2 separate regions of the Homo sapiens genome follow, and region 1 is linked to region 2. The links come from fine-mapping of genetic effects on gene expression. A gene starts in region 2. The other region holds a variant in brackets. All regions are shown on one strand. Distances are between the middles of the regions. Region 1 holds the start of CAVIN3 (caveolae associated protein 3). Region 2 holds the start of CNGA4 (cyclic nucleotide gated channel subunit alpha 4).

Region 1 (15,560 bases), 81 kb after region 2:
TAGTCTCTACTAAAAATACAAAAATTAGCTGGGCGTCCTGGTATGCACCTGTAATCCCAGCTACCTGGGAGGCTGAGGCAGGAGAATCTCTTGAACCTGGGAGGCGGAGGTTGCAGTGAGCCAAAATTGTGCCACTGCACTCCAGCCTGGACAACAGAGTGAGACTCTGTCTCGATTAAGAAGAAAAAAAAAAATCAGAATAAACTCATGATTCTAAAAGACTCTGATTGTCATAAGAACATTTGAAGCAGCTGTTGATGTCACCCTGCCCGCAGTGGAAGCATGGGAAATAATCTACTCAATAATCAGACTTGGGTCTTATGCTGGTTTGCCACAGAAGGTATCACCAGATAACTTGGGCCACATACTAGAAAATCAAGATAAGTATGGAATAGACTGTTGTAACAAGAAAACAAGAATACCTCCATAGATGATTCAAGTATTTAAGAAAAAAAAAAGACAAAAAAGCTTAGTCTGTTTTGTGCTGCTATAACAGAATACCTGAGATTCAGTACTTTATAAAGAACAGAAATTTGTTTCTCACAGTTCTGGAGTCTATAAAGTCCAAGATCAAAGTTCTGTCATCTAGTGAGGACTTTCTTGTTATGTCCTCACATGGTGGAAGGCAGAAAGGGGTAAACCCACTCCCACAAGCACTTTTTATAGCAGCATTAATCCATTCATGAGGGCTATGAAAATTGTCAAAATCAAAATGGAGTCACTTGTGTTAAAAACCCTGACAAATAGAGCTGAGGAAGGGTATGAAGGAGGGATTCTTGTGCACGAATTCTTGATATCACAAAAGACTTTGCAAAACCACAGCCTGCACAAAAGCCATCACAACTTTACACATAAAAAAAAATGCTTCTGGCCGGGCGCGGTGGCTCATGCCTGTAATCCCAGCACTTTGGGAGGCCGAGGCAGGCAGATCATCTGAGGTCGGGAGTTCGAGACCAGCCTGACCAACATGGAGAAACCCCATCTCTACTAAAAATACAAAATTAGCCGGGCATGGTGATGCGTGCCTGTAATCTCAGCTACTCAGGAGGCTGAGGCAGAAGAATTGCTTGAACCCAGGAGGCAGAGGTTGCGATGAGCTGAGATCACACCATTGCACTCCAGTCTGGGCAAAAGAGCGAAACTCCATCTCAAAAATAATAATAATAATAATGCTTCTGAGAGGACATCTGCCTAGCAACTCTCTGTCCAATCTTGGACTGGCACCACCTTTGTTATTAATCCTTGTAGTCAACAATAATTATCTCAGAACAATTATATAATCCTCCTCATTTTTCCTTTAAAAACCTTTGTCTTCCTTTACCTCCTGAATATATACATAATTTACTGTGGAAGACATACACATTCCCATTGTAACGCCTATTCCCAAATAAACATCATTTTCTTCTAGAGAGTCTTCCTCTCCATTTGTTATTTAGGTTGACAGGTCAGAGTTCTCATGACCTAAACAACTCCCATTAGGCCTCATTTCCCTCCCAAAACTGTTGCAATGGGGACTACATTTCCAACACATGAATTTTTGGAGACACACTCAAATCATAGCAAAAAAAAAAAAAAAACACGTTGAAAAGAGCTCCCATATACCAAGAAGTGACAGGTAAGCATCAGGAGAAAACCTACCAGCCAGCAATTGATACCAATTCAGTCTTTAAAAAGAGCCATGAATTCATAACTATTCTAAAAATGAAAGGTAGGAGAAGGGAAATCATACTAAAAAGTAAGATATGTATCTTTCAAATTAGCTTTACAAAATTATGGAATAATGATCAAGTTAACTGAATCAAACATTCGGAGAGTTGGTCAACACAGATGTTAACAATTTCAAATGGTATGCAAACATAAGAAGGGTACATTTGTAATTTTTTTTAAGTTTAAGAGTATTAAAATACATTTTGACTAGCCAGATTTAGAGATATCTAAAGGTTAGGGCAAAACAGGTAGACTGTTGGGGAAAGTGGGTAAAGAAATCAGAATAAACCAGGCATGTAAATACATAAAGAATACAGGAAGTAATAATGATATCATAAAATTAATGCTACATTTAATAATCCACATTACTTTAGAATGGTCTAGTCCATGAGTCTCTGTGAAATAAAAGGAGTTGTTTAAATTGGGTTGGACTGCTCTGTCTTCATTCTGTGTTGGAGAGAGGAAGATCTATAGAAGTCCAGAAACAATATGACTCATAATAGGGGATCATCTCAAACCTATCTTCTCTAATAAACCAGACTTCCTAACAAAATGTCCATGCTTAAGACACAGGTTATGGATTAAAGAAAATAACTATCAGAATAATTAAGCTCAATCTCACAGGACCGGGGGTAGGGGATGATTGTTGGACTCTTGTTTTAAAATGACTGAATAAAGACTGTGCTTTCCACCATCATGTTAAAAATAATTCTAAAATAGAAAAGAGACCATGAATGCAAACTCTGTCTGCCTTTGATGAAACTAAGAAATATCTGAAACCACAAGGATAGATGTCAAGACAGTACAGAACACTTTAGTGTTGGAAATGCTTGTGGAATAGACAGCATTCGCGTTCTCTTCAATGCTGAGGTTATATGATTCCTCTGCTCACAATAAAGGAAAATCAAAAGGACGTCTAGTTCTTAACTAGGGAAGAAGTTTCCTGCCAGGAATGTATATATTTTTGCCCATGTAAGAGGCATGTCAAAGCAGAAAGTGGGCATATTATGTTAGATTATCCTGCCCATTATCTTTATCCAGTTTCTACTATTCTATTGCATTATACCTAGTTTAAGATCTTACTTTGGCTTCCCATGTAGACTTTGTTGAAGGATGAAAAATGTTTTGAATAGCTAGCTAGACTATTCCAGTCACTTGGCCATTAGATTTCTTCGGGAAATTAATGAATCCAGCAATCAAATTAATCAGTGTTTTCTGAGTGCAGTTATTGCAGATCAGCCTAATCTTGCTGGAATGCAAGATAAATTTGTGTTTCTGGCCTGAAAAGTTGAAAGCCAAAGTGAATGTTAATGATCCACTAATGTACCTTCCGTCTGCTTAAATAGCTGCTAAATGCCACATGTGCTGGATGACAAGTTGGTATTCTGTCATTGTCTCCACTTCCTTTATTTTACTTTTTTAAAGGCAAGGTCTCATTCTGTCACCCAGGCTGGAGTATAGTGCCATGATCATAACTCACTGCAACCTTAAAATCCTGGGCTCAAGCAATCTTCCCACCTCAGCCTCCCAAGTAGCTAGGACTACAGGTGTGCCCCCATGCCCAACTAATTTTTTTTTAAACTTTTTTGTAGAGACAGGGTTTCACCATGTTACCCAGGATGGTCTTGAACTCCTGGCCTCAAGCTATCCACTCACATCAGCCTCCCAAAAGGCTAGGATTACAGGCATGAACCACTGCACCTGGCCATTAATGTTTAACAATATTAATAATAACAACCAGCAGTGATAATGGAGAACATAATATAACAAAATGAGCTATGAAGAAATTTAACTAATTTTGTTTTAACTTGATCTTATTATTTGCTGCTATAGACAACTCAGGAAGAAATAAACATTAATATACCCTTCCCTTGCAAAATTAGTCAAGCCTTTGGGTTTCTAGGGGTCAAGATGTTTTATACGGAAAATGCACACTTAGTTCTTAATTCTAATTGTGGGTTGAAAGGGGAAAATCAAGTAGATTTCCAGGAATTTGAAAAAACAAGAATTTATTTTTCCTTGGGGACAGAGAACTGAGTCTGCTCATACCAGTCCCATTGAGACGGCCAAACCTTGAAAGGGGCACAGTCTGAGCACCAGGGTTGGGAGCCTGCAGGAGAAGGGTTGAATTTCCCCAGACCAAATGGAGCTACTGCAGAGCCGCCTTCCATGGAAGGACCCCTGCCCGCTACACCTCCTCTACCCTAACTGTCCCCAATATATTGCCGGTCAGGCTGACCTCCGGGTAATTAGAGGAGGCACCAACGAGGACACTGGCTCCCCGACACTGACATCGTGTGGTCATAAGGAGCAAGGGCAGCAGAGACATGCAAAGGCTGAGAGATGGTATGAGCCCCCTGGTACTGCACAGTCTCGAAAACGGGAAGATAACTAAAATTGCTAATCATCAACTTCCCAACAGCATGGCAGGCATGTGGGGGCTTAAACTCTTCTTATTGAATCCATGAAAATAAAAATGTGACACCACTCAAACTCAAGTGTCAAGGAGTAATTCATACGTGTAACTCTGGTCCCAATATTACTCCCCAGTGTCCTTATCTAAAGAACACCCCCACAAACCTTATCTGTATCCTTAGTCTGTTTTCTTTTTCTTCAGAGCTCATAACCAGAATGCCCTTGTGGTTCATGTGCTTACTTGTTTTATCTGGCTTACATGTTTACTTATTTATTACCTGTCTCTTCCTACTGGAATTTAACTCTATAGAGGTATGGATCTTCTCTTTCTTATGTGCCACTGTATCCTCAGATTTTATTTTATTTACTTTATTTGTTATTATTTTATTTTTTGAGACAGACTGTCGCCCTGTTGCCCAGGGTGGAGTGCAGTGGTGCAATCTGCAGCCTCTGCCCCCTAGACTTAAGCAATTCTGGTGCCTCAGCCTCCCAAGTAGCTGGGACTACAAGTGTGCACCACCACATCTGGCTAACTTTTTGGGTATTTTTAGTACAGACGGGGTTTCGCCACGTTGGCCAGGCTGGTCTCAAACTCCTGGAGTCAAGCGATCTGCCCGCCTCAGCCTCCCAAAGGGCTGGGATTACAGATGTGAGCCACCACGCCTGGCAGTATTCTCAGATTTTAAAATAGCACCTGGAAGACCCTAAGAGTTCAGTAAGTTATTTGTTGAATGAGTGGACAAATAAATTATATACCTGAAGCTTATGGAGCAAAAACTATACTCCGGCAATGTGCTGGGCACTTGATTTATGTCACTTAATCTTTCCAACAATCTAAGTAAGGGGCTATAATTATCTCATTTTATAGATAAGGGAACAGAGAACCCAAACTACCCACCGCTGAGCTCTACTGCCCCTTGCCATTCCTGTTTTCCATCTCACTATTTACCATTTCCAAGAACAATTCCTTATATATCTCCCACTTTTCCTCCTTCAGGTTGGGTCATGCCCCTTCCCCATTTGCTCTCAAAATAACTTACATGTAACCATCATTCATTACAATTGGTGATGGTATCTCCCTCTAAATCCCGAGCTCCCCAAGGTGTTCATGAGACCTAGCATAGGGCCTGGAACAAAGTAGGTATTAAAAACGTTGTTATATGATAGTGACTGAATGAAGGAGTAGGTGACTGTGCTCCTCATCCTTAACCACCACTCCCACTTCCAGTTTTTTGTTTTTCCTTTTTTTTTTTTTTTGAAACATGGTCTCATTCTGTCACCCAGGCTGGAGGGCGGTGGCATGATCTTGGCTTACTGCAACCCCTGCCTCCTGAGCTCAAGTGATCCTCCCACCTCAGCCCCCCAAGTAGCTGGGACTACAGGCACAAGCCACCACATCCAGCTAATTTTTGTAATTTTTGTAGAAATGGGGTTTCATCATTTTGCCAAGGCTGGATTTGAGCTCCCAAGGTCAAGTCCTCCACCCACCTTGGCCTCCCAAAGTGCTAAGATTACAGGCATGAGCCACCGTGCCCAGCCCCTTCTGTAATATTCTTGCTTTACTGCAGCAGGGAACTCTCCTCAGCCCCTCAAGAAGGTCTACCGTGTGCCAGACACAGTATTTGGTGTGGGAAATACAGAAATTAATAAAACTGTCCCTACTGCAAGAGAGTCACAATCTAGTAGATCGGAGGGGGCGTAACCACAAATCCTCACAATCAGTGCAGTTAGCACTAGAGGTGTGCAAGTGGTGCTTTGAGAGAAGGAAGAGAAATACCTGGCCCTGAAACAGGTGTGCTTTACTGAGTTTGGCAGGATAGCAGGGATGACAGTGAGAGCACAGAGCTCAGTGTGACTCAATGGTAGCACAAGGGGAAGTGGTGAGAGATGAGGCTACAAAAATAGGCAGGGACCAGATCACAAAGGGCCTTGAAAATAATTATAAAGAGCTTGGTCTTTATTCTGAAGATAATGGGGAGACACTGAAATATTTGAATCAAGAATGATGTGATGAGATTGGCAGTTCAAATACCGGTCAAGTGAAAGGCCTGAAATAAGGCAGCGGCTGTATTAGAAAAGTGGACAGATTGCAGAGGTAAAATCATTAGAATAGCTGTTTCCATGTGGGAGGGGGATGAGAGAAAGTCCTTGAGCCGACAAGGACTCCCAAGTTTCTCTGTGGATGATGGTATATTGATTTTTTTTGTCATCATTGGTAAAGAAAACACAAGAGGGGGAAATATTCTGAACCATACCTAGTAGGGCCTGCCACATAGTAGGTGTTCAATAAATAGCTGTTGAACGAAATGGAATTTAAAAGGTAGAAGATACTTGCTACTTTTGAAGCACTTTTCAACTGTGGCTCAAGACAGTGGTATGGGGTGTACGCAGCTGGTAGGGGAGGCCTAGGCATGAATGTCAACCGAAAAGTACCCTGAGTAAAAAGAGGGCCAAGAAAGGAATCCTGGAAAACTCAACTTTTAGGAGGTGCCAAGGAAAGAAAAGACTAAGAGGAAAACCATTAGTTGACACTGAGTAAGCACCTACAGCAAGGACTATACTGGATGCTAAAAAAAAAAACACACACACACACTCACACAAAAACAACAACAACAAAAACTGCAACTGTGTGTTCCCATGAGGAAAGTGTTTAAAGAGCAAGTGGTCAGAAGGATATTTCTATGTGTCACTGGAGGCTAGAACCCAGGACTCCGTGGAAACTGGAGAAATTGTACGATTCCAGGTTCCAACATTTGTCTTATTCCTTGTAACTGCCTTCCCACATCCAACCGCTTCCCCATCCCTTCTCACGGAGTCTGGTTCGGGTGAAATTACTTTTATTGATGGTGAGCGCAAGCAGGTGTGAGTGACTGCACCTCTTTCAGAGGACACAGGACTGGGCTTAAGGAAGGGAGGGCCAGAGCGCCCGCCTTGGTGGATGTAGGATTCGCTCCTTATTAGGGCGTGAGTGCTACATTCTGAAAGGATTTATTTTGGGACAAGGCACAAGCACAGGGGAGGCAGGCAACACCAGCCCTCAGGCTACACTCTCCATTTGGAGCAGAGCTTCTTCGGCAGCCCCAGGTCTCCCGGGATCTTCCTCGGTGTCCTGCGGAGGCTCTGGCTCCAGCGTGGGCTCCAGCGCAGGCTGGGCTTCCGGCTGGGCTTCAGCGCTCCGGCCAGGCCCAAGGCGAGGCGGCTTGACCGGGGTGGGCGGTGGCGCTGCAGGGCCTTTCCGGCCCGAAAGGGCCCTTCGGAGGCTCTGTACCTTCTGCAATCCGGTGCGCCGCAGCCGCTGGGCCCTGGACTCCACCGGCTCCTCGTCCGAGCTCTCTCCAACTTCGGCCTCCAGCTGCTCTGGGCCCAGCTCGGACTGGTCCGCCGGGCCCAAGGGCTCTGGTGCCTTCTGGAAAGCGCTGGCTGGGACTTCACCCTCCTCCTGCATGTGACGGACACAGCACTGATCCTGGCAGCTCCTTACCCCCAGCAGCCCGAAACTCACTCCTTAATTACACAAGGGAAACCTTTTACCTCCGCAGCCAGAGTCTGGGGGGAAAGGCAGGCGTGGGAAGGTAAGGGGAGGGAAAGCTGCGTGCGAACTGCAAAACGCTGTAAAGTAGGTGAGGCCTGGTGAGGGGCGAGAAGAGGATAGTGCCCGCAGTCACGGAATGCCCTTTCAACCACCGTTATTTTAGGGATTGGCTGGGACTCAGACCAAATTCTGCGGACGTGGCCTGAGCTAGAGCTGGGCGGGCTTGGATTGGCCAGGCGGGGCTCAGGCGTGAGAGGGAGGGATGGGGCTGGGTCTTGGGAAGTGGGTGCGGCTCTGTGAGTCTGTTCCACAGCAACAGACGGCGGGAGGGGTCAGGAATGTGGGTGTGGTAGGTGGATGGAAGCGGGGAGCCCCCAGCTGGTGGCCCACAGGCCGGCAAAGGCCTCGGATTGGGGACCGTTTGAGGTCACTGACCTTGAAGAGCAGAACGTGGAGCTTCCCGCGCGCCACCAGCAG[C/T]CCGTGGTTGGCCTCCAGCCGCTGCACCTGGGCTGCGCGGCGCACCGCGCGCTCTTGGGCGGCGTTGGCGTGCGAGCTCACGCGCTCCGCCTTGGCCAGCAGCTGCGCCAAGGTGTTGCTGGTGGTGTCGTGGCTGCGACTCAGAGCGCCCAGGCCGCTCTGGATGCGGCGCACGGACCCTGCCAGGCCTCCCTGCCTTCGAGCCAGGCCTCCCTGCCGCTCCCGCAGAGTCTCCAGCATGGAGGCCAGCTTCTCCAGCAGGGTCACCACCGTCACGGCGTGCACGGGACCCCCCGCCGGCGCCTCGGGCACAGGCCCCCGCTCCAACGCACTCTCCCTCATGATCCCTGACCGCTCTGCTCCGTCTGCCTGCAACTGCTGGCCGCACTACGGTCAGGGGCCTCCTTTCCCTGGCTCCTCCCCAGCTCCAGCTGTGACTCAGGCAGGCGGAGTTGGCCTTCTGGGGCGGCGGGAGGGCGCGAGGGCGTGGGGATGTTGGCAGCGGGGTCTCTTGAAAGCGTTTCGCCTTCCGCTGTCCCGCGCCGGGGGCCTGCTGGGAAGCCTGTTGGCCCCAAATCGGCCCCCTGCAAACCCTCTCACTCTGAGTTTGAGTTACCCTCCTCCGCTCCAATTCCCTGGTGTGCCTGTTTCAGTTCTCCACTGCAAAGGGCGAGTCACGGAAATTTTTATTTCATGCATCTTAGTGGGCGCAGAGACTGTGTTGGCACGGCAAAGAGATAACCAGAGGGGCCTCCGTCGCCGTCCACTTTCGGCCTCCCACACCAGTGAAGATTGCCCCCAGGCTGGATGCAGGCGACAGGGAGGCCCTGGAACATTCTGCTTACAGATCGCGAACTGTCAAGGCCCGAGGCCCCGCTTTGTGACTTGGACAGGCTGCTCATTGTGGGCTGGCGGGCGGGGCATCCTCTGGTGTTTTCCTAATAGTCATCTCCAGGGTTTAGCCTCAGGCTTCGTTTCCTGCTTCTTTATTTCGTCCTCTTGGGTAGCATTATCTGGTTTCTTTTCTCTAGTTTTCTGCCCTCTCTTTCTTTGGGTTTCACTGGTAAATCTCAGCCGCCCCGGCCCCAGCACCCAAGCTTGGAGGATAAGCAGGACACCTTCACCTCTTTTAAAATCCTTAAAAGCGTTAGACTAGGCACTGGTCTTTGCTTTGATAGAGGTTACTTGGGCTCCTGCCTGACTTTTTTTGCTTGTTTGTTTGTTTCTTGTGTTCTGTGGAACTGCGGAGAGTAAAGATTTGAAATTGCTGCTGCAGAGAGGGAGAGAGTGGGCATGGAGGATCCAGTTAATGATGTGGATTGTGAATTTCTAATGTCAGCAGTTCGAAACATCCCATGCCTTAGCCGGGCGCGGTGGCTCATGCTTGTAATCCCACCACTTTGGGAGGCCGAGGGGGGAGGATCACGTGAGGCAGGGAGTTCCAGACCAGCCTGGGCAACATGGCAAAACCCCGTCTCTACTAAAAATACAAAAATTAGCAGGGCGTTGTGACACACGCCTGTAATCCCAGCTACTCGGGAGGGCTGAGGCAGAAGAATCGTTTGAACCTGGGAGGCAGAGAATGCAGTAAACCAAGATTGCTCCACTGCACTACAGCCTGGAGGACAGAGCAAGACTCCATCTCAAAAAAAAAAGAAAAGAAAAAAGAAAATCCCGTGCCTTGTTTGTAGCAATACTTGGCAAACCGTCTCACAAATGCAAGTAATCCATTAATCCTGATGATCTCTCTCCCTCTTCCTCTTCTCACTGAACCTGTGAGGGCCACTTGTTGACAACTGTGGAAGAAACTTGTGTCACTCTGGAAATAGTTACATGGGCCTGAAGTGCCACAGACGTGGGCAGCTAATGCCAGAAATCTGGTGATGCTAAGCTGATGGCTGATTTCTACAAATACAAGGCCATAAGCCTGACCCCTGCTGCTTAATACAAGAGAAAATAAGCTCTCTTGGGAATCTGGTGGGAATCACCATCTCTTCCAGTGAAACTACATTTACCCAGAGAGATCCATCAGGGATGTACCAGTTAAAATGCTTTCAGACTGAGGGAACAAAAACTCAATTCAAACAGTACTTAGTAACAGGAAACTCAATTCAAACATAATTGAAAAAGAGGATTGGTAGAGTGGTGATTAAGTGTGAGTCATTCACAGCTCCAAATCTGGTTTTCTACAGTTCTCTCCACTGCTCAACTATGAGCCCCATCCCGCACCTCTCACACTCCCCCATGTCCCCCACACACCCCCTACCCATGTGTATGTGCCCACATACGCACAGGTGTCAGCTTCATTCCAGGCCTCACAACTCTGCACAAGATCTTAAAAAAAAAAGGGGACCATCTTAAAATTTAGGACATTTATTTCCCAGAAGCCTCCCAGAATTTTTACACTTGCCTTCCACTGGGTTACATGGCTTTTCCAAATCCAAATTCTATGGCTACAAAAATGACATGCATTGATGGGTTTAGGCCTATGTTCCCTAAACAATCACTGACAAGAAATCTAATAATTGGCTTTTGACAAGTTAGATCAATTCTGAAGTAGAGTAGATTCAGCTTCCCCAGGAGTATTAGGGTGGTATGGGAGGAAAAGTGGATATCTGTACAAAAATCTGGGTACTACTGGGAATGGATATTAATATTACAGGAAGCCTATGAAAGAATCACCAGCTTTGATGAGTGGGGCTAAGGAAATTCAGTGCATTTGGAAGTAAGAAGTACTTGCATAGATACTTGGATAGATTTGGATAGATTTTTTTTTTTTTTCCTGAGACCAAGTCTCGCTCTGTCACCCAGGCTGGAGTGCAAACGCGCGATCTTGGCTCACTGCAACCTCCGCCTCCCAGGTTCAAGCAATTCCCCTGCCTCAGCCTCCTGAGTAGCTGGGATTACAGGCACGCGTGACCACGCCCAGCTAATTTTTGTAATTTTAGTAGAGGCAGGATTTCACCATGTTGGTCAGGCTGGTCTTGAACTCCTGACCCCATGATCCGCCCACCTTGGCCTCCCAAAGTGCTGGGATTACAGGCGTGAGCCACCGCGCCCAGCATAGACAGATATTTTTTTAAAACCTGGTAATGAAGTGGCATTGTTGTCTGGAGTAAATACCCGAGATTGGTTGTGTCACAGCTATGGAAAACTAGGACATGGACACACAAAGAGGTTCAGAGCAGAAGTTGAATAGGCAAAAGAAAAAGAAGAGCTCTCTGCAGCAGAGAGGGGTCCCAGAGAAATGGGTTGCTGGTTCCACCGTGGAATGCAAGGGATTTTATAGATGACCTTAAGGAGGCAGTGTGTCATTTACATAGGGCACAAAAGATTGGTTGGACCAGGTGTGTCATTTGCATACAGCTCAAAAAACTGGTTAGGGCTAGGTATGCCATTTGTATAGGCACAAAAAGATGGCCACCCCCACCCTAATCTTTTATTTTGCAGATGGGTTCTCTACCTGGCCAGTGCCATGTTGCCTGTTTCTTTACTGTAACTGTGGTGACAAAGAAAAGGGAAGATGGAGCCTCCATGTTGAACATACCTGGCCCCCAGGTAGCCCTTTTCTATTGACACAGCTGCTGGCATTCACCCCTGCAGGCTTCCAGCTTGCTTATCTATGTTTGCAGCTTGATTTTTCAGGCTGTTCTTTGTTAGAAAAGAAATGATTTGGGGGCTGATTTTTGTTAAAAGGGAAATTCTGCTGAGGACTCTTTTGCCCTCACTATCTGCCTAATTTTTTTCCATCTCCTGTAGCACTAACTCCCTCTCTGGATATCTGGAACAAGGAGGACCTTAAACTTAACAATAAAGCCAATGATGGTTCTACCAGTCTCCCCAAAGCCTCAAGTTTAAAAGCCATATGAACTGGCTGATAGTGGAAAATGGAAGCCATGAGGTAAGTAAAAATAACTTGGGGCCAGCTAGAAGAATGCCTGAGTCAATAATGCAGAGATTGACAGAAATTGTAGTAGAGTGACCTTGATTATAAAGTATCCAAGGAAGAACTGTATTGCAGTTTCCAAAAAGGGTAAGAAAAGAAGAAAACAAAGAAAGATGCAGAATGATGCCCTCTGTTCAAAAATAAACTTACGAACCTTAAAATTTTAAAGGGTTTATTTGAGCTAAGAACAATTCATAAATTAGGCTGCACTCAAGGCCAAAAGAGGTTCAGAGAGCTCAGCTGCAGCAGTGTGGGCAGTGAGCTTTTATAGGCTGAACATGGAAGTAAGACAAAGAAAATATATTTGATTCATTAATATGGAAATTCCCCTAGTTAGAGGTTAGTTGGTGGTTTCTGATTGGTAAGGTCCCTAGTTTTCTTTTACTTTTTACATTGGGCTTTGGTTTGCTTATGTAGGAATCAAATGTGGTGGAGCCATCTCAGCCTGATGGCTTCCCAATTAAAAAACTTTATAACACCTCTAAGGCAGTGGTCTTAAAAATTTCTATTCTTAGCCAGATGCGGTGGCTCACACCTGTCATCCCAGCACTTTGGGAGGCCAGGGTGGGCGGATCACCTGAGGTCGGGAGTTTGAGACCAGCCTGACCAACATGGAGAAACCCCGTCTCTACTAAAAATACAAAATTAGCCAGAGATGGTGGCACATGCCTGCAATCCCAGCTACTCGGGAGGCTGAGATGGGAGAATTACTTGAACCCAGGAGGCAGAGGTTGTGGTGAGCTGAGATTGTGCCGTTGCCCTCCAGCCTGGGCAACAGGGGTGAAATTCCGTCTCAAAAAAAAAAAAAAATTCTCTAAACTAGGGGTGTGGCTGGCATCTACTCTCTCATACCCCATGGTATGGACATGAAAAGTGGAAACTTATTGTCGCAGGTTGCTTGTGTCCCCAAAAAGATATATTTAAGTCCTAACCCCTGGTGCCTATGAATATGACCTTACTTGGAAATATAATCTTGCAAATATAATTAAGATGAGGCCATAATGAAGTAGAGTAGGCCCTTAATCCAATATGACTGGTGTCCTTATAAGAGAGGGAAGAGATACACAGGGAGAACACCATGTGACAACAGAGGCAGAGATTGGAGTTAGCTGCCACAAACCAAGGAATGCCCCAGAAACCGAAACAGGCAAGGGAGGATCCTTCCCTAGGAGCTTCAGAAGGAACATGCCCCTGCCAACACCTTGATTTCAGGCTTCTGCCCTCCACAACCATGACAGAATAAATTTATGGGGTTTCTGGCATTGGTGTTGGTGTTTTTGAGACAGAGTCTTGCTCTTGTCGCCCAGGCTGCAGTGCAATGGCATGATCTCAGCTCACTGCAACGTCTGCCTCCCGGGTTTGAGTGATTCTCCTGCCTCAGCCTCCTGATGAGCTGGGACTACAGGTGCCCGCCATCACACTTGGCTAATTTTTGTATTTGTAGTAAAGACAAGACAGGGTTTCACCATGTTGGCCAGGCTGGTCTCAAACTCCTGACCTCCAGTGATCCACCTGCCTTGGCCTCCCAAAGTGCTAGGATTACAGGTGTAAGCCACTGCACCCAGCAAAGTTCTGTTGTTTTAAGCCACCTAGTTTGTGACTTTTTTTGTTTTGGTAGCTCTGGAAAACTAATAACAACTTTGATTAATCAATATCAGTATTACAGTATCCCATTACCCAGGATGCTCCTGCAAATGGCTTCCCCAATTATGTGAAAGTATTAGAGTCTCTGTAGGAAAAGTTAATAAAACCTGAAGACTCACAGTAGAACACAGACAAACCAATAGTTGCCCAGATGTAATGAGTCTTGCAAAAATGAGTGGAATACTATGGTAGTTGAGCTAACAACTGCTTTAAAAAACTAAAAGGTATTACCCATCCTGTTTGTCAAGGGTTCCATTTATATACTGGCCCATCCCCTCCCCAGAGCACAGCCTACTATGAGGAAGAGTTGGCTGTACTAAGGAGAAACAAATCCACTACACCTTTCATCAGGCCTGGGGCTGTCTGAAATATATCTGCCTAACAAAGATCTGCTTAAGGGTGGCCCTCTGTCTCTACCTATTCAAGAACAGCTGGATGCTCCTTTCGCTTTAAGGAAATCTCTGAAAAAGACAGATCAGATCATAGTGCCTTAGATGGTATCATTCTGCATCTTTGTTTTCCTTCTTCTTTCAGTTGCCAGGTGCCCCACTATATGAAGTTGCCAAGATCCCCTAAAACAAAAGTGACAAAGGCACTGCCATTCTTCACATCATACCCAAGAGGATGAGTCTGTCCCACTGGGTTCAGAGACCATCCACCAGAAATCCAGCAGACAGGGATTACCTAGAATAGTAGTGCTTAAACTCAGGACAGGTAGTGAAACATGTAACACCTCCTACTGCAACAAAGAACAGAGGGAGGTGTTAGAGTCAGCAAATGCTTCACCTTGGAATTTTCACACACTCTATATCTTGAGTCCTCCAAAAGGCTACATACTTTCAGTAGGATTGAGAGAAGCCTCAGTGACTAACCCTGGCAAGTTACAAGCCACAGTATGGTCAATTCTATCCTTTGGGTCCTACAAGTCAGAAAGAAAAATGAGACCCTGAAGTCTCTGTGATTTCTACCTCTTCCACCAAGATGATTTGTCAGGGAGGGAGGAGGGCAGATCCTACAGGGGAAAATACAGCATAAGTATTTAGGATTTTTGACTAAGGAATGCTTTTAGCAGCTGAGAATTGTACTGCTTTTGAAAAACAATTGCTGGCTGATTACTGGAGGGGAATAATAGTACTAGAGGAGAGACTCGACAGAGGTTGCTGAGTGGTTTTGTGAATTGGAACCCTTTGTCTTACATAGCAATAGAGCTTAACAGTCTTTGATTATTAAATAGAAAAATCAAAATCTAAGAAAGGATGAGAGACATCTATGTGAGCTCATTACCAAAGAAATATCCCTGACCAGGACCCTCACTTTCATCTGCCCAGAAAAACTGATGCATCCTCCAGGCACTAACCTTTAAATCAAAAGTAACAATGTGAGGCACAGACAGACCACTCATTTAACAGGCAATGTGCCTCAGTAGACAGGCACTACCTTCCACCCTTTGTCATAGACATCCTGTCTACGGAAGAGGTAAAACCATTCCACACAATGAGGGAGCTCTGTGCCCCTGGCAGTTACAATAGCTATAAGTTTGAGGCATCAGGAAGTGAATTTGTACTGACTCCAGAAATCAAAATATCCAAATGGATGGAAGATCTCGGAATGGTATATTATGACCAGTAGGCTTAGGGATGCCTTTTATAGCAAGAATCACGCACATTATTCACTCAAATGACTATTTTTGTATCTCATATTTTAGTATGTTGAATAGTGTCTTAGTCCATTTTCTGTTGCTATAACTGAATACCACGGGCTGGGTAATTTATAAAGACAGAAGTTTATTTAGCTGATGGTTCTGGAGGCTGGGAAGTCTGACAGCTTGGTGCTGGCATC
Region 2 (8,068 bases):
CCGACGGCTATCCGAGGGAGGAGCACCGCCTCTCCTCTTGGTTCCGTCCCTTCGTACGTAAACCCCGCCCCTCAGAAGGACTCCGGCGTGTCATAGGCGAAGGCCTCTGGGAAGGTGGAGGCCGGCAGGGCGGAGGCGGAGCCCGGGAAGGAAAGGTGGAACCAGAGGGCAGAAGGCGGGACCTAAGGAGAGGCGATTTTTACAGGCAGGGAAAGATCAGAAGGGCGGGGCTTGGGAGAGATGGAGCCGGAAGAAAGACGAGCGAGAAAGGGGTGGGGCCATGGATTCCAGGAGACGCTTGGAGTGGAAGAGTGGGTGTGGAGGGGCGAGGCTATCACGAAAAGAGAGGAGGAATCAGTAGGTGGGCCGGGCCTGCGGAAAAGTGGAGCCCTAGAGAGGGCTGACTGCGGGCACTCTAGTTCATTTTGCTCCATCGTCGTGCATAGCTTGGTCTCTACTTTAGTACCCCAGCGGTGACTGCCCCTGGCTCCCCCAACACCGCTGTGCTGTGCTGCTCCGTCACCCCTTGAGCACTTAGTCAAGGAACACGGAATAAGTGCCTGCATGCCCAGCTGGATTCCGGATCAATTAGAACCGGCCTCTGCTCTCCAGGACCTCAGAGAATTGCAGCGTAGTGTAATAAGTACATTACTACGGGGGCCACCTAGGAGCAGCACTTAGCATGATTTGCATGTATAGAGGATGAGAGGAAGGTACGGTGAAGGAGCTTAGGGAAGACTTCCGGGAGGTGACGGTGTCTAAGCCGAGTCTTGGGAAACAAGCAAGAGTAAGATAAACTAAAATAGAAAAATAGAAGTTTCAGATAAGGCATGTAGTTTTAAAAGTACTTTACCGGCTGGGCGCGGTGGCTCACGCCTGTAATCCCAGCACTTTGAGAGGCCGAGGCGGGCGGATCACGAGGTCAAGAGTTCGAGACCAGCCTGACCAACATAGTGAAACCCCGTCCCTACTACAAATACAAAAATTAACTGGGCGTAGTGGCGCGCGCCTGTAATCCCAGCTGCTTGGGAGGCTGGGGCAGGAGAATCGCTTGAACCCGGGAGGCGGAGGTTGCAGTTAGCCGAGATCGCACCACTGCATTCCAGCCTGGGCGACAGGGCGAGACTCCGTCTCAAAAAAAAAAAAAGAAAAGAAAAAAAGAAAAGTATTTTGCCAATGTTAAATACCTGGTTTTTATCATTGTGCTATAGTTATGTAAGATCATAACGTTAGGGGAAGATGGATAAGGAATTTATGAGAACTCTGTATTATTTTTGCAACTTTTCTGTAAGCCTAAAATTAGTTCAAATAAAAAGTATTTAAAAAGAAATAGAAGTTTCAGACCAAAGGATCAGCATATACCAGGGAAAGGAAGAATGGACAGCATGTGGGAGGTGCTGTAAGAACTGCAATCAGTACAGTGTGTCGGGAGCCTAGGGAACATGTGAGGAAACATTGTGAGATGAGGCTGAAGACATGGACTGGAGAACTTTATAAACCATGTTAAGGAATTTAGATTTTATTTTTGGGATGATAGCTATAAAGAATTTTATACATAGATTGATAGTTATACAGTAACTTTGCAAAAGACCAAACAAGCTGATAAGGCCCAAACTAGAGTAGCAAAAATGCAGAGAAGTGGACATGTGGATTTTTAGAAGGTAGATCACCATGGTTTGATGATTGGGTGGATATAAGAGGAAAATAAGAGGAAGAATTAAAAACTAATGCTTAGTTTATATAAATTCAAAAACAGGTAAAACTAAACTGTGATATTAGAATTCAGGATAGTGATTATTCTTGGAAAAACATTGACTGAAAGGGGCAGAGTGGGGCTCCTGAGGCACTGGTGATGTTCTGTTTCTTGATCTGAGTGCTTGGTTATATGGGTGTGTTCACTTTGTGAAAATGTATTAAGCTATATACTTAAGGATTGTACACCTTTCTCTGTGTTTGTTTGTTCTGGTTACTATGCTATGTGACAAACCAACCCAAACTTAGTGTCATAAAAACAATAGCCATTTTATTATGTGCACAAATTCTGGGAATTTGGACGAGATGCAACAGGAATGGCTTGTCTCTATTCCATGATGTCTGGGGCCTTATTTGTAAAGCTTGAACATCTAGAGGTGGTTTGAGGCTGGTGGCTGGAAGCATCTGGAGGCTTCTTCAGTCACACATCTAATTCCTGGGCTGGGATAATGAAAAAGCTGAACTCATTGGGCAAACTGTCAAACAGAACTTCTCACAATGTGATGGGTAGGTTCCAAGAGGGAACATTCTGAGAGGGAGCTACCAGACAACACGCATTCCAAGAGAACCAGAGGGAAGCTGCATGGCCTTTTATGATCTAGCCTTAGAAGTCACACAACATCACTCCTGCTATACAAACTATCACAAGGGAGTGGTGTCGAAGAATTTGTGACCATTTTTTTTAACTGCCACAACATTATACAGTAAATAGTAATAAATGCTTGTCATAGGTTTTTTTGCTGAAAGGGCATAGATAGGAATTCTAGAAGAAAAAGTGGAGGAAGATAATGAGCTTAGTTATAGACCCAATGGGTTGAAGGTGACCGCGGGATACCCAAGTAGGAACATCCAGTGAGCAGTTAGTCATATAGATAACTGAAACTCAGGGAGAGTTCTCGGGAGCCACTATATGAGAAAGGAAGTCCTGTGGGTGACTGACGTCAATCAGACAGAGTTAGGAGGATGGCAAAAGTAGAAAGCCTAGAACAGAATCCAAGAAAAAAAAAAAACACCATCATAGAAGGAATAGACAGAGGAGCTTATGAAAGACACTAAAAAGAAACAGCAAACCAAGACATTATGGCATTACAAAGGATTTTATTCATTTTGTTGCATTACTTTGAATGTTGTCTTTTTATTTTAACAAGCGTAATACTTTGCAAAAAGAAATTAAGAAGCCATGGGAAAAGAGAGTTTTTCAAAATTTAATTAGGGACCACAGGTTTTTCTTCTAAAACACACTCCAAAAACACAAACCTGATTTTATCACTGAACTGTGAAAAACTCTTCACAGGTTCTCTATTGCCGTTGGGTAAAATCCAAGCTTTATAACATGGCTGACAGAACTCCTCCTGAGCTGGCCTCTGTCTATCATTCAACCTCATCTCTCACCACTACCCGCTAGGCCCTCTAAAATAAGCCAATTGATATTTGCCCAGTCACCCACGCTTTTTGATATCTCTATGCCTTTGCCCACTCTGTGCATTCTGCCTCTAGTGCTCTTCACCCTCCCATCTCTGTACCCAACTCCTATTCATCCTGCAGAACCCAGGCTCTGTAGGGCCACTTCATGTGTACTATAATAGCCTTCCGTGTATCCAGCTAACAGAGTACTCATCAGCAGCCTGGCAATGACTGCTGCTGTTTAGTTACCTCATGTGTAATTACCTGCTGGCCTGACTATTTCACCTAGCAGACTGTGAGCTTCTGGAGAAGGGGGAGCGTGTCTTATTCATCTCCAATTCCTAGTATTTAGCACAATATTGGCCTGGCACACAGAACACCTGCCTATGGGTGTTCTGATTTTGATTTGTTGACTGAGAAAGATGATAGCAGTGAAAGGAACATCAGGTTGAGGGAGAAATTGTAGGGTTTTTGTTTGTTTTGATATAGGAGATATTGAAGCAGGTTCACAAAAAGAGAAAAGTTGAAAGATTGGGGACCATAAAACACATGGAATGGTTGGTAGGATCAGGCACTAGAAGTCACAAGAAGGATATGAGGACAAAAGCACCATAGGATGGCCCCTATCACACTACCTATGAGAATGGTGTGATGGGGGAAGGCGTATGTGGAGGTAGATAAGGGTAGGAAGTAGGTTACAAAAATAGAGCTCACTTCTCATGTGAGAGGCATCTCTTTGTCCCTGGAGAATAGTTTAGCACCTGACATAGATAAGCCATTCAGTAATAGTTGTTAAATAAATAAATAGTGAGGCCCAAATAGAATTTGCAAAGATAAAACAGAGTGTTTGATCCTACACTAAAACTGAGGTCTTCTGACCCAGAGGACACCTATGTAGCTCAGTTGCTGTGGAAAGAGGGGAGGAGGAAAACAGAGACAAGACTCAGGCTTCCCTCTGAGGCATGCACCCCCACCTTCTCCAGGGATCTCATTAGAGGTGTTTAGCTGGGCAGGTGTAAGCCCAGGCCCTGGGAGACAGGGCAGAGTGCTAGAGCTAGACTGTCTCCACCCCTTCAGTAGCGCTAGCTCTGGTTGTGTTGCTAAGAGCCCCAAAGACAAAGAAGTCACAGCAGAAGCCCAACAGCAGCCTCCTTCAGGCAGTCAGGCACTAGTGCCCAACTCCAGAAGTCCCCTACAGGCAGAGAGGGTGTGGACATCTCACACCCCAGCACCAGACCACAGAACCATGAGCCAGGACACCAAAGTGAAGACAACAGAGTCCAGTCCCCCAGCCCCATCCAAGGCCAGGTGAGAAGTCCTGGTCCCTTGTGTGGGATCTCTCCTCATTCCTCTTGGTGCCCCAGTCACAACTACAGCTTTGAATGCCTGGTGAATAAATGAAGCAAGACTTTCTTTCTTACAGGAAGTTGCTGCCTGTCCTGGACCCATCTGGGGATTACTACTACTGGTGGCTGAACACAATGGTCTTCCCAGTCATGTATAACCTCATCATCCTCGTGTGCAGGTATGGCAGCGGTGCTAAGGGAGGGGCTGGAAGCCAAAAAGAGGACTAAAGAGAGGTCAAGGAGAAGGGCAGACCCTTGGTGGGGCAGGAGGAGCAATTCCCATGGGAGGGCCTGAGGCAGAGGGTTAAGGGCCCTGGGGAGACGCCTCGCACACAGAGGGTGCCCTTAATTCAATCATGCTTAACCCTGCCCTGCAGAGCCTGCTTCCCCGACTTGCAGCACGGTTATCTGGTGGCCTGGTTGGTGCTGGACTACACGAGTGACCTGCTATACCTACTAGACATGGTGGTGCGCTTCCACACAGGTCAGTGGGCTTCTAGGAATGACCCTTTGTCCCACATTCCCTTCCTAAAGATAGCCACTTAAGAAGTAACAAGAAAGGCACCCCCACCGTGGTAGCACCTTCGCGTGCCTCTATGCCTGACAGCATCCCAGTGCTCACCCCGGAAAGCCGGGAGCAGAGTTATGCCTGGCTCCACTCTGTCCTTCAGACAGTCTCCCTGGCCTGCCCTGGGCAGCTCATGCTCAGCCCAAGCTTGACTACAGCAGGTCCGCTTCCTACCGGCTCCCTCTCCCCAGGATTCTTGGAACAGGGCATCCTGGTGGTGGACAAGGGTAGGATCTCGAGTCGCTACGTTCGCACCTGGAGTTTCTTCTTGGACCTGGCTTCCCTGATGCCCACAGATGTGGTCTACGTGCGGCTGGGCCCGCACACACCCACCCTGAGGCTGAACCGCTTTCTCCGCGCGCCCCGCCTCTTCGAGGCCTTCGACCGCACAGAGACCCGCACAGCTTACCCAAATGCCTTTCGCATTGCCAAGCTGATGCTTTACATTTTTGTCGTCATCCATTGGAACAGCTGCCTATACTTTGCCCTATCCCGGTACCTGGGCTTCGGGCGTGACGCATGGGTGTACCCGGACCCCGCGCAGCCTGGCTTTGAGCGCCTGCGGCGCCAGTACCTCTATAGCTTTTACTTCTCCACGCTGATACTGACTACAGTGGGCGATACACCGCCGCCAGCCAGGGAAGAAGAGTACCTCTTCATGGTGGGCGACTTCCTGCTGGCCGTCATGGGTTTCGCCACCATCATGGGTAGCATGAGCTCTGTCATCTACAACATGAACACTGCAGATGCGGCTTTCTACCCAGATCATGCACTGGTGAAGAAGTACATGAAGCTGCAGCACGTCAACCGCAAGCTGGAGCGGCGAGTTATTGACTGGTGAGAAGGCGGGGTTCCAGACCAGGACAGGGACCAGTGTAGGTGATGGAACCTGAGGGAGGTAACTGGGTCCTTAGTGCCTGGTGAGCCAGGCAAGGCTGTCAAAATGTAGCATTCAGCCGTGGGTTTGCTGGCTGGGGCTTGGAAAAAGGGAACTTCTTTCAACTGAGGGAATCAGGACTTGGGGGAGGGGTAGGTAAGAGACTGATAGGGAGAGGAGCTCATACTCAAAAAAGGATAATATGGAGACCAGGGAATGGGAAGTGCCACTGCCTGGTAGGGCTCAGAAGGCTCTGGAAGGAGTGGGTGAAGAAGGGCAATCCCCCCTGAGAATGGTCAGCAACAAGATCATTGGCTACCTATGGTGATTCATACTGTGGACTGAACAAAAGGAAGTGTCACAAAGTTGGGGAAGTAGAGCAGAGGGTCCCCAGAGAGGAGGGGCCCTTGGTGGCTGAGGTAGCTAAGGGTAGGGGTGGAACAAGACATCACTGATTGGTGGGTAGGGTAGAGCCTGATAGGAGGTGAAGGGTTATGTAAAGTGGTAGAGGTGTCTATGCCCTGGAAAACAGGTAATCCAACTGTCAGGTACTCCCATGACCCCTGTTAGATCTCAGTATGGTGGGATTCTTGGCTGGAGCTGAGCTGAGCCCTGAAGGAAGGGATGGAGGCAGGCACATAAAGGGCTGGTAAGGAAATGGCACTGTCCTTACTCTCAGGTATCAGCACCTGCAGATCAACAAGAAGATGACCAACGAGGTAGCCATCTTACAGCACTTGCCTGAGCGGCTGCGGGCAGAAGTGGCTGTGTCTGTGCACCTGTCCACTCTGAGCCGGGTGCAGATCTTTCAGAACTGTGAGGCCAGCCTGCTGGAGGAGCTGGTGCTGAAGCTGCAGCCCCAGACCTACTCACCAGGTGAATATGTATGCCGCAAAGGAGACATTGGCCAAGAGATGTACATCATCCGAGAGGGTCAACTGGCCGTGGTGGCAGATGATGGTATCACACAGTATGCTGTGCTCGGTGCAGGGCTCTACTTTGGGGAGATCAGCATCATCAACATCAAAGGTGGGTATCCCAGTATTTGTTCCAGGGACAAGGATGGGTGGGGTAGGGGGGAACAGCAGAGCCCAGTGCTGGGACCAGATAGTACTTCAGGCCTAAACTTCTGATTGAGGAAACCTGGCCCTTCTCTGAGTCACTAGATGGCTCAGGAGAAAAACAACACATAGAGGATCCATTCCCTGAGAAGAAGCTGAGCCAAGGCCAGTGAACAGGGTGGGTTCGTGGAAGAGAGAGTAGACTTGCTCTGTGGATATTCACCTGAAGCACCAATAGACTAGTGGACAGTGATAGAGATAATAATAATAATAATAGCTAATATTTATTACCTGCTTACTGCATCCCCTTTTCTAAGTGCTTCACATGATATTAACTCATTACATTCCCGCAGCAGTTCTATAAGATAAGTACTATTCTTATCCCAATTTTAAAGATAAGGAAATCAAACTCAAAGAAGTTGGGTAATTTGCCCAACGTCGCACAGGTATACACATGTGGGATGAGTGGAAAAAACAACCTTTTTACAGCCAAGTGGAAAGAGAAAGGTAGAAGAGAAGAAGTTCCCATTTACTGACCATCACCTCTAGGCCAAGCCAGGTACTACCTACTGGCTTGCTTTTTCCTCTCATCAGCCCTGTGCAGTAGGAATTGTTATGCCTAATCACAGGTATTAGGCATGAGGTCGTGCAAGCAGGAAATCCTGCAAATGGGGTAAGCACACTGTCATGGACCGAGAAGCTGGATGTGCTCTGGCTCTCTCAGCATGAGGATTCTACCCTCAGGGATTCTGAAAGCCTCACATCTGTCCTCCAATGATCCCCTCAAGCTCCACATCCTGTATGTGGTAGGATGCTGTCTGTTTGACTTTGGACAAGTCATTTCCCTATTTAGGCCTCAGTTTAATCACCTATCCAATGAGGACAATAATAAAAACCCAATGAGTTATTTGTGAGAATAAATGAGCTATGTGAGTGAGGCATCCAGCGCAGTGCTTGGCATACAGCAAGTGTTCAACAAATAGTAGCTCCCTTTCCCTTGTCCAAGGTCCTTCTAGCTCTAAGACTTTGCAGCATTCAGCCTCACCTATCTCCCCACCCA

What was found.
Region 1: its variant is fine-mapped to the expression of CNGA4 in tibial nerve (GTEx, PIP 0.98).

The regions. Positions count from the first base shown.
Region 1 is chr11:6,312,004-6,327,563 of GRCh38, forward strand. CAVIN3 (caveolae associated protein 3) reads right to left here and starts at 8,498. Exons shown (of 2, transcript NM_145040.3): 1 at 8,090-8,498; 2 at 6,943-7,561. The coding sequence starts at 8,473. The coding sequence ends at 7,160. It overlaps LOC101927825 (a long non-coding RNA gene), which reads left to right and starts at 7,138. Exons shown (of 7, transcript XR_930998.4): 1 at 7,138-7,694; 2 at 11,582-11,689; 3 at 11,891-12,032. RefSeq lists enhancers at 7,174-7,911, 8,455-8,504, 8,715-9,074, 9,085-9,144, 9,175-9,264. The variant C/T (reference allele first, on the strand shown) is at 8,132.
Region 2 is chr11:6,234,805-6,242,872 of GRCh38, forward strand. CNGA4 (cyclic nucleotide gated channel subunit alpha 4) reads left to right here and starts at 4,285. Exons shown (of 6, transcript NM_001037329.4): 1 at 4,285-4,464; 2 at 4,580-4,681; 3 at 4,880-4,986; 4 at 5,262-5,907; 5 at 6,627-6,976. The coding sequence starts at 4,403. RefSeq lists a silencer at 1-36 and enhancers at 79-769, 167-246.